Regions from separate parts of the Homo sapiens genome. Here regions 1, 2 and 3 are each reported to be linked to region 4. The links are microRNA targets in miRTarBase. Many come from high-throughput screens and were not tested one by one. Region 4 holds a microRNA gene; each other region holds the end of a gene's coding sequence.
The links. Region 4 holds the annotated microRNA hsa-miR-5011-5p (UAUAUAUACAGCCAUGCACUC, at 2,276-2,296, shown strand). A microRNA usually pairs through its seed, bases 2 to 8, with sites in the 3' UTR of a target mRNA and lowers its output. Matches are read on the target gene's strand: a 7mer-m8 pairs with bases 2 to 8, a 7mer-A1 pairs with bases 2 to 7 and ends in A, and an 8mer does both.

Region 1 (3,224 bases), not on the chromosome of region 4:
CTTGTATTAATTGCACTTAACACAATGAACCTTTAGTTTCCAACCAGTTTTCATTCTCTGCAGACCCGGGCTTTCTTTTTATAAAAACTGCTTTCAAAGGGCATAGAGACACCACACATGGTCCACAGTAAATTCAAATAGAGAGGTGCAATAGTTGCAGTGGTAAACACACAAAAAAATACATTTTTTTGGACTAAAAATCTGGTCACGGATAAAAGCATGTGCCTTTTCATTCTTCTCTGGGATGTTACAACAGCAACACGCTCTAAAACAATTAAGTTACATGCATAATGCTAAAAGAATGTGAGCAATCCTATAACCAGCTTTAAGCCATCTGCTTGATTTCTTTTTTTTTTTTTTTTGTAAGGAACATATATAGGAAAAGAGAATTCCCCTTTTGTTCCATTACATATAGAAACCTTTTGAAGCTTCCAAATAGCTTGGTTTTGGTAAAATTCACCACTCTTTTATTACTTTGACATGTAGTCATCCTAAACTATCCGTCATGGTTTCTCCAAAAATCTCCACATGAATTATCTGAAGGACAATTGAAACCACTTACCAATATACAAGTAACGTTTTATTTTATATTCTATCTTCCATTTGGCATAAGCCTTTCGATGTTTGTTTTTTAAACCAGTGAAATATACAAATCACGCAAGACAGAAATATGTACATTAAAAGTACAGAATAAAGGCTAGAAGATATACATAATATCTGAATGACATGTAGAATATTTTACATTAAATAGTTTCTTTTAAAAGCTAGGATTGTTAAACTCAACTCTCTTCATAAACATGAGTCACTAAAAAGGAACAATCTGATTTAGCAAATAAAAAAAGTACTTCATGGTTTTTGTATAATAAAAACCAAAAAAGTGACATTTTAAACTAATTAGTGCTTTTTGCTTTCAAGATCTTTTGCTCACAATTCACTGCAACTGAGGGGATGTGAATATCATTATGCAATAAATTAAGAGCCACAGTTGGCTGAGGTGATATGAAAGCCAACCTGCCTAAGGGGGGTATGAAAGATGTGTATCTTTCCAAACTTTTAAAACAACGTAAGTCTGAGATAAGAACATATTTGATGGCACTGTTTGGAAAGAGGTGTCCTTATTAAAAAAAAAAAAAAAAAAGCTATCTATGTAGTGGGCTGAATATTCCTTAGGGACTCAATTAATAAGTACTGTCATTTCTAATAGGCATGGGTTTCCATTCTGCAGAATGAACTAAGAAAAGAGAAACATTGCTGATGCTTCTGAGTTTTGAATATCTCTTAACGTCCATGTCTATAACGAACAAGTAATGCCCTCTCCACAAAGTGAACAGAAATGGAGGTTGGAGACAAAGGGGTGAGGCAGAAAAGAAAAAAGATATCTTCAACCCAACACGCATTTCAGTGAGTCAGAACTCAAGCTTCCTCAGAAACAAGGTTGCTTCGTCGTGCTCAAGGTATGATCACAGCAGGGCCACAGCCCAAGCTCAAGACTCAAAAAACTTTTGGAATAATCCCAACTGGACTGCAGTGAAGGACAACAATGCTCTAGACAGAGAAATAACCCCAGAGTAAACTGTAAATCTAAATCACTGGCTGCAATGAGATATATTTATATTTATATTTATATATATGTATATATATATATATGTTATGTACAAAAGACTTTGAGATATCAGGCACCATTAAACCACATTTCCCCCCTTATAAATGCAACTGTTCAAGTACACTGGGAACAGTTTTAAGGTACACCTGCAGTACAATAGGAGAAGCATGAGTGGATAATCTAAACACAGGATCATAACAGTGATACGCTGCAACACCTCTGTGAATTCCATTAGCCAAGTTCTGTCATTAAAACATAGAAAACTACTGCTCCTCAAAATAAAAGTTTTAGGAAACAAAAATCCCTAAGTAGTGAACTGTTTTCCAAGCAGAGCTCCTAATGTTTCATTTCCTGTCCTACAACCAAAGGGGACCCAGTGGAGCTGCCGTTTGGAAACGTGGCCAGCATCACATCACAACACGGAGGAATCAGAGAGGGCTCAGTGTGAAGAGGAAGGTGGATTTCACTGTTTTTCCTCAAATAGGTTGTCTGCTCTGGTGCAGTGCTGAATGGCACGCAATTACCTTGTTGCTTGGGCTGAGAACCTGTGAATGGGATTCATGTATTATTTTTACTATTATAATTTACTAACCAAGTATCCCTAAGAAAATAACAGGATATTTTCATTTATGTTCAAGCCAACCTCCCCAAACAAAAAAATCTAGTGTCCAGAATCATTTGGGGATCTTTTTACAATCTGGAATCCTAATTCTTATAACAGCTTCAAATCAACATCTTGACATAAGAGTTTTAAATTTTTTAATTTCTGGGGACTTTCCTCCCTGCTGCCCAAATTTCATGAGCTATTAGAATATGACGGTCTGTCTGCAAATGGAATATTTGAGGAGAATGAGACATGTGATATACCTTTTTTCCTTGAGAATATGACATTCTTGTCCTTCCATTGTAAATTATCATTTTGAAAATGCAGAAAGCAAGCTAGCAGCCCTGCTGGGGAAGGGAGGTTTGTTTTGTTTTGTTTTGTTTTCCCAAGACCTTTTATCTTGCACCAGAGAATTTACAACTCATTTTGGTCATAGAAGCTGAATTGTGAATAGATTTCTACCACCCTCTTTCAACTGGAACCTACCCATCCCATATGATGGCATATTTGAGAAAAAGAAAATGTATTTCTTTACCTTCTGGATGTGTACCATGTCCACACAGCTAAGTTAGGGTATGTGTTATTTCCCCTTCATTCTATACTATCAAAAGAAGTCTTGTATTACCTTTTCAAAGATCCACAAAATAAATATTTTTCTTGGTTCCCACCCCCATTATTGCCAAATAATAATTATAATATTAATAATAAACCACAGAGTTCTTAGATGGTAACAGGAAAAAAAATGGTTCCGGTTGCAATTCTTGGGGAAAAATAAAAAATATTTCTAAAAACCAAAAACCAGAATCACTGTACTTTCTATAAATAAGCGGGTCCTGGGAGCGGGGCTGAGTGCTGGGTGGCACCCACTACTTGCACACAAACTGGTCCACGATCTCCGTGCACTTCTTGCACTTGACGTAGCAGCACCAGTGGAACTTGCAGTGGCAGCGCTCCGTCTGCACGGTCTTGAACTGGTCGTAGCCACGGCCGCAGCACATGAGCTCGCAGCCATCCATG
Region 2 (3,000 bases), not on the chromosome of region 4:
TATAGTCATACATACCCCACACCCCCTCCAGTCCCTATCCCTGGCAACCATTAATCTGTTCTTCATTTCAATAATTTTGTCACCTCAAGAATGTTATATAAATGCGATCATACAGTATGTGACCATTTGAGACTGGTTTTTTTTTTGTTCACCATAATACCCCTGAGGTACAACCAAGTTCTTGTATCAACAGTTAGTTCCTTTTCATTCCAGAGCAGTATTCCAAGTTATGGATGGTTTGTTTAACCATGTACCTGTTGTAGGACATCTGGGTTGTTTCCAGTTTGGGGCTATTACAAATAAAGCTCCTATGAATATTTGAGTACAAGTACAATATAGGTTTTCATTTCTCTGGAATGAATGTCCAGGAGCACAACTGCTGGGTCTTATGTTTAACTTGATTAAAAAATTATGTTTAACTTGATAAGAAATTCATAAACTCTTTCCCAGAGTGGCTGTACCATTTTACATTCCTGTCAGCAATGTATAAAATATCCAGTTTGTATCCTCATCAGTATTTGGTATTTTCACTATTTTTTCTTTAGCCATTGAGATAAGTAAGTCATAGCCTCGCTGTGGTTTCAATTTGCATTCCCTGATGACTTATGGAGTTTAACAGCTTTTCATATGCTTACTTGCCATCTATAGATCCTCTTCAGTGAAACATCTATTCATGTCTTTTGCCCATTTTCTAATTGGACTGTTTGTTTTTATTGTTGAGTTTTGTGGCCTTTTTTTTTTTTTGAGATGAGGCCTCACTCTGTTACACAGGTTGGAGTGTGGTGGTGTGATCACAGCTCACCGCAGCCTCAAACTCCTGGGCTCAAGTGATCCTCCTGCCTCCCTAGTAGCTGGGACTACTGGTGTGTGTCATGGTGCCCAGTTAATTTTTTAAAAAAACTTTTTGTAGAGACAAGAGTCTCACTATGTTGCCCAGGCTGGTCTGGAACGCCTAACCTCAAGCACTCCTCCCATCTTGGCCTCCCAAAGTGGTGAGATTACAAGCATGAGCTACCATGCCTGACTTCAGTTGAGTTTTTAGTACACTTTATATATTCCAAATTGATCAGATATATGGTTTGCAAATTCATCTCAATCTGTAGCTTATCTTTTCCTCTTCTTAAATCACAAGTTTTTAAATTTTGAAGAAGTCCAATATATCAGATTTTGTCTTTTATGGATGTGCTTTCGGGGCAAAGTCCAAGAACTTGTCACCTAGCCCAAGATCCTGAAGATTTTTCTCCTGTGGCTTTTTTCAAAGTTATCTAGTTTTATGTATCACATTTAAGTCCGTTATACATTTTGAGTTAAATTTTATATAAGATGTGAGGTTTAAGTAGAGGTTCTTTTTTCTCCTCGCCATGGGTGTCTAATTGCTCTAGCATAATTTGTCAGAAAGGCTATTCTTCCTCCATTGAATTGCTTTTTCACTTTTTCAAAATCAGCTGAGCATATTTATATGGGTTTATTTCTGGGTTCTCTCATCTGTTCCATTGACGTATGTGTCTGTTCCTCTGCCAATACCATCTATCTTGATTACTATAGCTTTATAGTAAGTCTTGAAGTCAGGTAAAATGAGTCCTCCAAGTTTTTCTTCTTTGAAATTGATTTAGCTTAAGTAACTTTACACTGGATATTTTCATCTTTCCTATAGGGAAAGAAAAAGAATAGAGAAGAACAGTGGCTGTGGGAAATTAGGGACAATATAGTATATACATTCCATATGCTCAAGGCTAGTGGTTTTCAAATCAGCTAAGTAGTTCATGCAGATTTTATCCCCAGAGATAGAGTATGACCTTCAAGTGATTCTGATGCAGGTGGTTCTGGACAACACTTTGAAATGTGAAAAATGAGAGGGAGAAACAAAAACCAAAAACAGCCTTTATCACTTAACTTCTAGTATCCAACAAGCATACTTTGTTTCCAGTATGCAACAAGCACACAGAAAAGTATGTCTTTTCTGCAGACACATTTATCATTTGTGCTTTTACATGATAAGAGTAATGCAACCAAACTTTTTAAAGCATGATTTTTATTATATCCTCAATCCTAAATGTTTCTGGAGAAACACATTTTACTATAATGGAAACTCCTAGGCAGATAGGATCTGCTCAATAGGAGTTTACTTCAGAGTCAAATATGCTAGAACTCATGTTGGGCTAAAAAGGGCACCCTCAGAGATTCAACGTTTGATAGGTATCTCAGAACATATATTTTAGAAATCAAGAAGGAAGACACTGCCCTCTCAGTGAGGGCATAGAGGTGGGGTACTTCCTTCCACTCACACTAGATTTATTATTTGCTTGTCCAACATAAGCATCATACCTACAAAATTGAAACATAAAATATTCTAGTGAGTGAATGTATTTGAAAATGAAAATAAAGACTTCCAAGTTAAAAGAAAGGGAAATATAAATGTTTAAAATATACCCCCCAGACATTTTATTCTAAGATATTCCTTGCCATTGTACCACTCATAGCCTTTTTAAAAATAACTTTCATATTCTACTTAAATCATCTTGCATAAGCTCCTTATTGGTCAGTTATAGGTAGGAGGGTTCAGTGAACTCTAATTAAACTGTCAGGAAGACATCCTGTGCTGATTGCATGTGAAAAATAACTACTCTATTGTCTGCCTGCATGTGAGCTGTGTGCATTTTCAGACTGTGTTTAGTACACAAATTGAAAAAGAAGTTTTTTACCCCATTTTGTCTCCTGATTTATTCTAGAGAAGAAAGTTCTTGCATAAGCTCTTCCTTTTCTTGTTGTAATTCCTGCAAATGCTGTTGGTTTTGCTCCAGTCTGTCCTCCAACCACTGTAGGAGAGGCCCGCTGACTGCCGACATCTGACTGCACAGATTCTTGGTAAACACTTCAATAGGAAAAATAAAGATGAGAATAATTGTGGAAAAGCACCATCCACTAGCATGTTTCCACTCTATCACCAACAGACCCCCAACCATGAGCACAGAAAGAAGGGGTTGGAGAAGGAAGTAGAAA
Region 3 (3,249 bases), not on the chromosome of region 4:
CTTTTGATCAGTCTGAAAGTCGATTACTAACAGCTGAAGCTGATAAAACCATTAAAGTATACAGAGAGGATGACACAGCCGTAAGTTCTGTGTTTCACATTCGTTAAGTAAAACAGCTATACCAATTTGGCAGCATATTCTCATTTAATTATCAGAAGGAAAAATAATCTTTATAGTATTTAAGATATCTGTCTTCTTGAATAGTGTCCATTTATATATTTCTATATTGTTTCACTGATGCCAGTGAATCCATGGATGGCTTTAATTTTATCCCAACTTCCTTTGTTATAGTTGCTGGGAAATGTTGCACCAAGAATAACAGCAAATAAATAGATTGCTATGTAAATTAATTCGAGAATCATAAGCTTTGGTGTTAGTAGAATATCCAAGTAGAAATGTTATTTTAGATGGAAAACTACAAACTAAACATAATGAATCCATCCATCTGTTATTAGACTTGGATAATGCCAGAAGTTTATCAACTCTTCCTAAAACTGTCAAAGAACTAAGTGTATAAAGCCAATGAATAATGTTAGATACCTTATTTTTGTTAGAAAGGAAGCCTATTAGACATGAAGCAAACTAATAATACTTTATTTTAACTCACTTTTCTATTTTTAGACAGAAGAAACTCATCCAGTCAGCTGGAAACCAGAAATTATCAAGAGAAAGAGATTTTAATGAATGTGGAATTTTTTCTCTCTCTTTTTTTTTCTTTTTAATTAAAAAAAAAAAAGCTTGGCGTTCATGAGGATATCCAGTCATTTTGTGCTCTGGCTGGGAATATAAAGGAGAAATTCACTTGCTTCAATCATTGCTGCTTCATATTTTACAATAAACTGTCCCCTGTCCCCTACCCCTGTGTTTTTATTTCTAAAACAATTTGTGATACTAGGAAGATGCAGATATCAAGTAAATGCAGGTTTATTGAACATAACTATTCTAGATGTAATATTTTGACAGTCTTATTAGAAAACCCCCTTTTTTAAAAAAAATGTATGAAACCGATAATTAGGACATTTGAAGGAGCAGTAGTTTTTTTTTAGTCCTTTAAAAAATAACATCTGTGACTAATAATTTGAGATTAAAAGATTTGAAGTCTTAATTTATGTATGTTTATTCCAAAAACAGTTTTTGAGTGTATGTTCTACAAAGTTCTGCACTAGATACTGTTCAGGAAATAGACAAGTAAGATGTGTCTATCCTCTAAGACTTCCAGTTTGGTAGCTTAGTATAGAAATTCTGTAACAGAGGTGCAGGTGAAATGCTGGGGGAACAGAAGGGATAAGACCATTTATTTTTCTCAGGAAGGATTGTGGAAGACTTCATAGAGTAAGTGGCATTGGAGATTACCTTGAAGTGAAGGAAGACAAAGAAGGAAAAGAGATGAGGCATAAAGTGATGAAACCAGGCACAAGAAAGTGTGCGGTGTGTTCTGGGACAAAGAATGTTCTGCTACTGTCGAATAATGGGACTAAAGCTGGCTTGTTCTGGGGAAAGCTCATATAAGTATGGATTTTATTCCTCAACTAGTAGGATACCAATACTGGTATTGAAACTTGGGGAAAATAACTGGAGATACCAGTGCAGCTATTTAAAGCTGTAGCAAGGGCTGCAATCTTGCGGAGATTTTAAAGAGAAGTTTTAAAGTTTCTAATACTGATGCCTCTTTTTGGTAAATACAAGTTTTATAAATCCTGCCCTGGGATCCTGATTCCCCATTAATCAAGATTTGTCAGACTTCACCTTCTATAATTAGAAAACACAGTTATAAGAACAGTCAATTTTTTAAATTTTCCAAATTAAAAAATTGCACCATGATTTTGAACAAGCACTTCCAATTACATTACCCATCTTGTATGCCATAGGTGGGAGTATAATTGTCACAGCCTTTAGGAATGTAGTTTTCTGGGATTTATTGAAACTTTGAACCTTTTGGCCTACTAAGTTCATTCCTAGGAAACTGCCTAATGGGAATGATCTGACAAGTGTACACAAGCAAAGTCATTGCACCTTTGTTCTTTAATACTTAAAACTAGCCCAAATGCCCTGTCAGTAAGGGACTGGTTTAATAGATGGTACCTTTATGCAATTTGTTTCTAAGTATTCGTTAAGAGAGTGAGGAATGTCTGGATTATTAGGGCAAGATTTCTAAACTTGGGTAAAAAAAAAAGTTGTGCAAGCATTTTTGTGGACAACTTGATGCTCTAAAATATAAGTAACACCACATTACTAACAGTGGCTTTGTTAGGAAGCAGAATTATGGAAGAACTTTCATGGGTGGCTTTACATATTTCTATAATGTTTTAATTTTCTATAAGCATGTATTTCGTAAACTTAAATAAAGAAAAAAGAACACTACACTTGCATTCCTGAGAGATTCTGATATGCCTTCTAACAAGAAAAATCAGAGGTGGATGCTGTTCCATCTCTAAAGGCCAAGAAGAAATTACTAGTACAAGGAGATGAGAAAGCCCCTACCGACCTGTCTGGCAAAGCTTCAACTATTGTGTTCAAGTTAGGTATACGTATCAAATTCTGAAAAGCATTAAAAAAAAATCTCTTTCCCTGCTCCATGCTGCCCTGTATTACAGTGTTCTTGAATCCTCTGTTGCATTAATTCATATACCATAATGTGTTTGTGAACCCTATGAAAGATGCAGAATTTCATGCATGTGCCCTTTTACTTACCTGACAGACATCCAACCAGGGTTAAGCTCAAATCTTTTCCACTGCCCATTCCGTACAGCTTGAGTGTAGTCAAGCTATAAAATGTTACCAAAGAAAAACAGCTCCACTGACTGGACTCATTCTTGGTCTATAACCACATATCTCAAGTGGGCCATCAATAATGACCAAATACACATTTCCATAGTTAATGCCTTCTGCCTGCTGTTACAGAGGATGAGCAATCTGCCTCACAACAATTCCCTCTGTGCAGTTGTTGCCATACACTCTTGCCCACTCAAGGACCTTGCTCCCATGATTAAACTCTTTCTCTCCTGTACCATGAATTTCTTCCCTCTGCCCTAAATGAGTGTCATCAACAAATAGGTTGCAATACTGCTTCTTAGAAAAAAAAAACACTAAACCTATTGTTTCCCTCTAGGAATACACCCATTTCTCTACTCTTACAGCCAAACTCTTAGAGTTTTTGATAAACTTATTTCTATTTCCTCACTTTACATTTTTTCAACCAATTGCAAAAAAAAAAAATAATGAAAATGTGTTAAACATTTTTCTTTTGAA
Region 4 (3,249 bases):
CTGCTTATAACTTTAAAATTTAGCTGTTGCCAAAAAAAAAAATTTCAGCTCAATTTAAATTTCTTTTGTGACAGCTTTTATCTGCTCACCACTGCTTTCTTATGGCAATCATAAATTCTCAATGCGAAGCAAAGCACTGTTCTGCTTTCCTCAAACAAAAGGGAAACTCATCATGTGTTTTATTTTAAGAAGAGCAACATACTTCTCAGGCATTTATTATCTGTATGTCCTCAGGTTTTGTGACAAAAAAGCTATACACACAAACACATCCATGTATGTATAGAAATGTAATTGGAAACATATCAATTTTTTCTAGCCAGTAGATACACCTTCGGACGTCTTGAACTTAAAATGAAAAATTAAAGAAAAACTACATTGCAAACTCTCCATTGTCTCTGGGGTTCTTAGCTCATTTTCTCTGATAAAACCATGGGCATGGACAATTAAGAAATTAAGATGTGACCAATGATACAATAACATCCTGAAAATTGTACAGTAAGCCATCTGACCCTTAGAAACTTGTGTGCAAGTGTGTTTATCTTTGTAGATAGATCTTAATTAAATTACCTGGATCAAAGCTTAACGTATACTAAATTGCCACTCATGAATTATTGTCACACATTCTTGAGACACGGCTTTACAAATTTATATCCTTAAAAACCTAGATTGGAGTGCCTTCTTCACACATCCATGTCTAATATGGATCATGTTGAGTATCTTTGGATATATTAATTTTGCAATTTAATTTCAGAAAAAAGTAGTATAACACTATTGTTTTGATTTATATTTTTCTAATTGCAAAAGTTTTCTAATTTTCATGTATGTATTGGTAATTTGCATTCTATTCCTATAGAATTGTATATATTTTATTTTGTAATTTAGTATTGCTTCTTAAAAATAAATATTGACATTGTATATCATTTCGTTACATATATTGTATGTTTTCCTAATCCATCATGCATCACATACTTTGTTTTCCATATAAATTGTCATATATGTTTATTAACTAACTCATAAATACTCATATCTGTCACCATTTTTTAATGCTTTCTTGTGTTTTGTCATGTTTAGGAACACTTTCCCCACAATTCACAATACTATCTGACAGGTGTTAGTATACCTGTCAGTGTTCTTGGTTGTAGATGACTGAAATCCATTCCAATTGACCTAAACCAGGTAATAGATTATATTGGATAAATCATATAATTATTGGAAGGCTAAAGAAACAGGCTCAGAACAGGGCAGCCCCATGGAAACCAGGTTCCAGAATGGCAGTAAAATCCCCCCACAGGAACAGTCTGATGAGATAGCGCTGCTGCCACCGTGGCACTTCCTCCCCTAGGGCCTGGGATATTTGATGGTTAATTTCTGTACCTCTGTGATGAATACATACTTGTTTGTTTCTTACTGTTTTTACTTCTTGCTTCTGTTTCAAATTTCTCCCCGAAGCCATCTGTTTTAGTTTCCTCAGGCTGCCATAACAGATTAGCATAAAACAAATGGCTAAAAGAACAGAAATGTATTCTCCCCCAGTTCTAGAAGCCAGTTCAAACTCGGGTGTCGGCAGGATTGCATTTAATCCAGGATTCTAGGAGACAATTCTTTCTTATCTCTTCCAGTTCCTGGTAGCTCCAGATGTTTCTTGGAGCTACACTTGGCTATTTAAAGTTAATTTTAATGTTTAATTAACTAAACATTAAAATAATTAAAAAGTCAGTCCCTCCATTGTGTTAGCTGTATTTGAAATACTCAAAGGCACATGTGGCTACAGGCTACTATATTGGACTATGCAAGGGTAGAACACGTGTTATCACACAATGGTCTCTTGCACAGTATTGCTCTAGAATATTCCCTGGACAGAAAAGTTTTACCTGTGGGGCATTAAACAACAAAGAGCCTTACAATTGCCTCTGACTTGTATAGTAAAGCCAACAGTTGTTTGTTGTCATCGTCAGAAAAGTTGATTCCATATTTGAATATGGTTTCACTGCTTGTCATGCTTGGCCAATGCCACAAACCATGGATTAACTGATGGCCTTCTCCACTCTCATGGCTATTCACCCCCAACAATAGAACTTATTTCTTTCATGTTGCCTCATATGGCAGAATCCCCTTCTATTTTAAGGCTGAATAATATTTCATGGTCATATACATATATACACACACACAGTCATGCATTGCTTAACAGGGAAATGTACCTTAAGGCAATTTTATCATTGTTTGAACATCATGGAGTGTCCTTATCCAAACCTAGATGGTATTGAGTGGATGCTGTTATATATACAGCCATGCACTCTGTAGTTTGGGTACACAGTGCATGGCTGTATATATAACACTATCCATTCATCTTTCAGCAGGACTTTTTTTTGGTCACAACCCTGCTAACCAAAACAGGATCTGGCCAGAGAGCATGAAGTGAAGAAACTGATAGGAAGTGGCAGATGTCAACAAAAGCAATCTCTAACTACTCATTGCAATTTAATTGTCATGGTGCTGGTGGTAGTGTCTTATGCTAATGAGCAATATGAGCAGCCTGGCAACACAACCCAGAAGTTACCACCTCTTTCCATGGCAACAACCTAAAAGTTACTGCCCCTGCCTTAGAAAGTTCTAAACAACCTGCCCCTCAATTTGCATTGGCTCACCCCTCAATTTGCATGCATTTGACCTGCCTTAGAAAGTTCTAAACAACCTGCCCCTCAATTTGCATTGGCTCACCCCTCAATTTGCATGCAATTGAATGTGGGTCTCGCTGAGTATAAATACCGTTGCCAAGAGACCATATGTTGCTGACTCTGATTGCACTGCCTATGATTTAGCCCTGCTCTGCAAGGAGCAGTACCATTCAATAAACGATTGCTAAGACTCCTAGCTCATCCTTGAATTTTTTCCGGGGTTAAGCAAGAAATCCTCCCTGGCTAAGCCCCAGTTTGGGGCCTTGCCTGTCCCACAGCAGTGTAACGTACTACACACTTAGACAATATGACATAGACTGTATCTCCTAGGCTACAACTCTGTATAGCTTATTATTATACTGAATGCTATAGGCAATTGTAACACAATAGCATCCGTACATCTAAACATACCAAAACAAAGAAAAATTACACTAAAAACACAGTATCGTAATCTTATTGGACCACATTTATATATGTGGTTTTTTGTTGACTGATGCAATACACAGTGCATGGCTGTATATGTAACACTATCAGTCACCATTCAATGAGCAATTAGGTCGTTTCTATACTTTAT

Region 1: miRTarBase lists WNT5A as a target of hsa-miR-5011-5p. Seed matches in the 3' UTR shown: 7mer-A1 at 1,641-1,647, 8mer at 1,639-1,646, 8mer at 1,637-1,644, 8mer at 1,635-1,642, 8mer at 1,633-1,640, 7mer-A1 at 1,625-1,631 and 2 more.
Region 2: the mRNA of BRCC3 is a reported target of hsa-miR-5011-5p. Seed matches in the 3' UTR shown: 7mer-A1 at 1,050-1,056.
Region 3: the mRNA of PLRG1 is a reported target of hsa-miR-5011-5p. The part of its 3' UTR that is shown has no 7-base or 8-base seed match.

What each region holds. Positions count from the first base shown.
Region 1 is chr3:55,467,019-55,470,242 of GRCh38, forward strand. WNT5A (Wnt family member 5A) reads right to left here. Exons shown (of 5, transcript NM_003392.7): 5 at 1-3,224. The coding sequence ends at 3,074. Among named protein-coding and RNA genes, the nearest start is that of WNT5A, 19 kb to the right of the region's middle.
Region 2 is chrX:155,119,871-155,122,870 of GRCh38, reverse strand. It overlaps BRCC3 (BRCA1/BRCA2-containing complex subunit 3), which reads right to left. Exons shown (of 11, transcript NM_001018055.3): 10 at 2,703-2,872; 11 at 1-1,648. The coding sequence ends at 2,721. Among named protein-coding and RNA genes, the nearest start is that of BRCC3, 50 kb to the right of the region's middle.
Region 3 is chr4:154,534,117-154,537,365 of GRCh38, reverse strand. PLRG1 (pleiotropic regulator 1) reads left to right here. Exons shown (of 15, transcript NM_002669.4): 14 at 1-80; 15 at 622-2,361. The coding sequence ends at 681. Among named protein-coding and RNA genes, the nearest start is that of PLRG1, 15 kb to the left of the region's middle.
Region 4 is chr18:67,079,332-67,082,580 of GRCh38, forward strand. MIR5011 (microRNA 5011) reads left to right here and starts at 2,253; the gene lies at 2,253-2,355.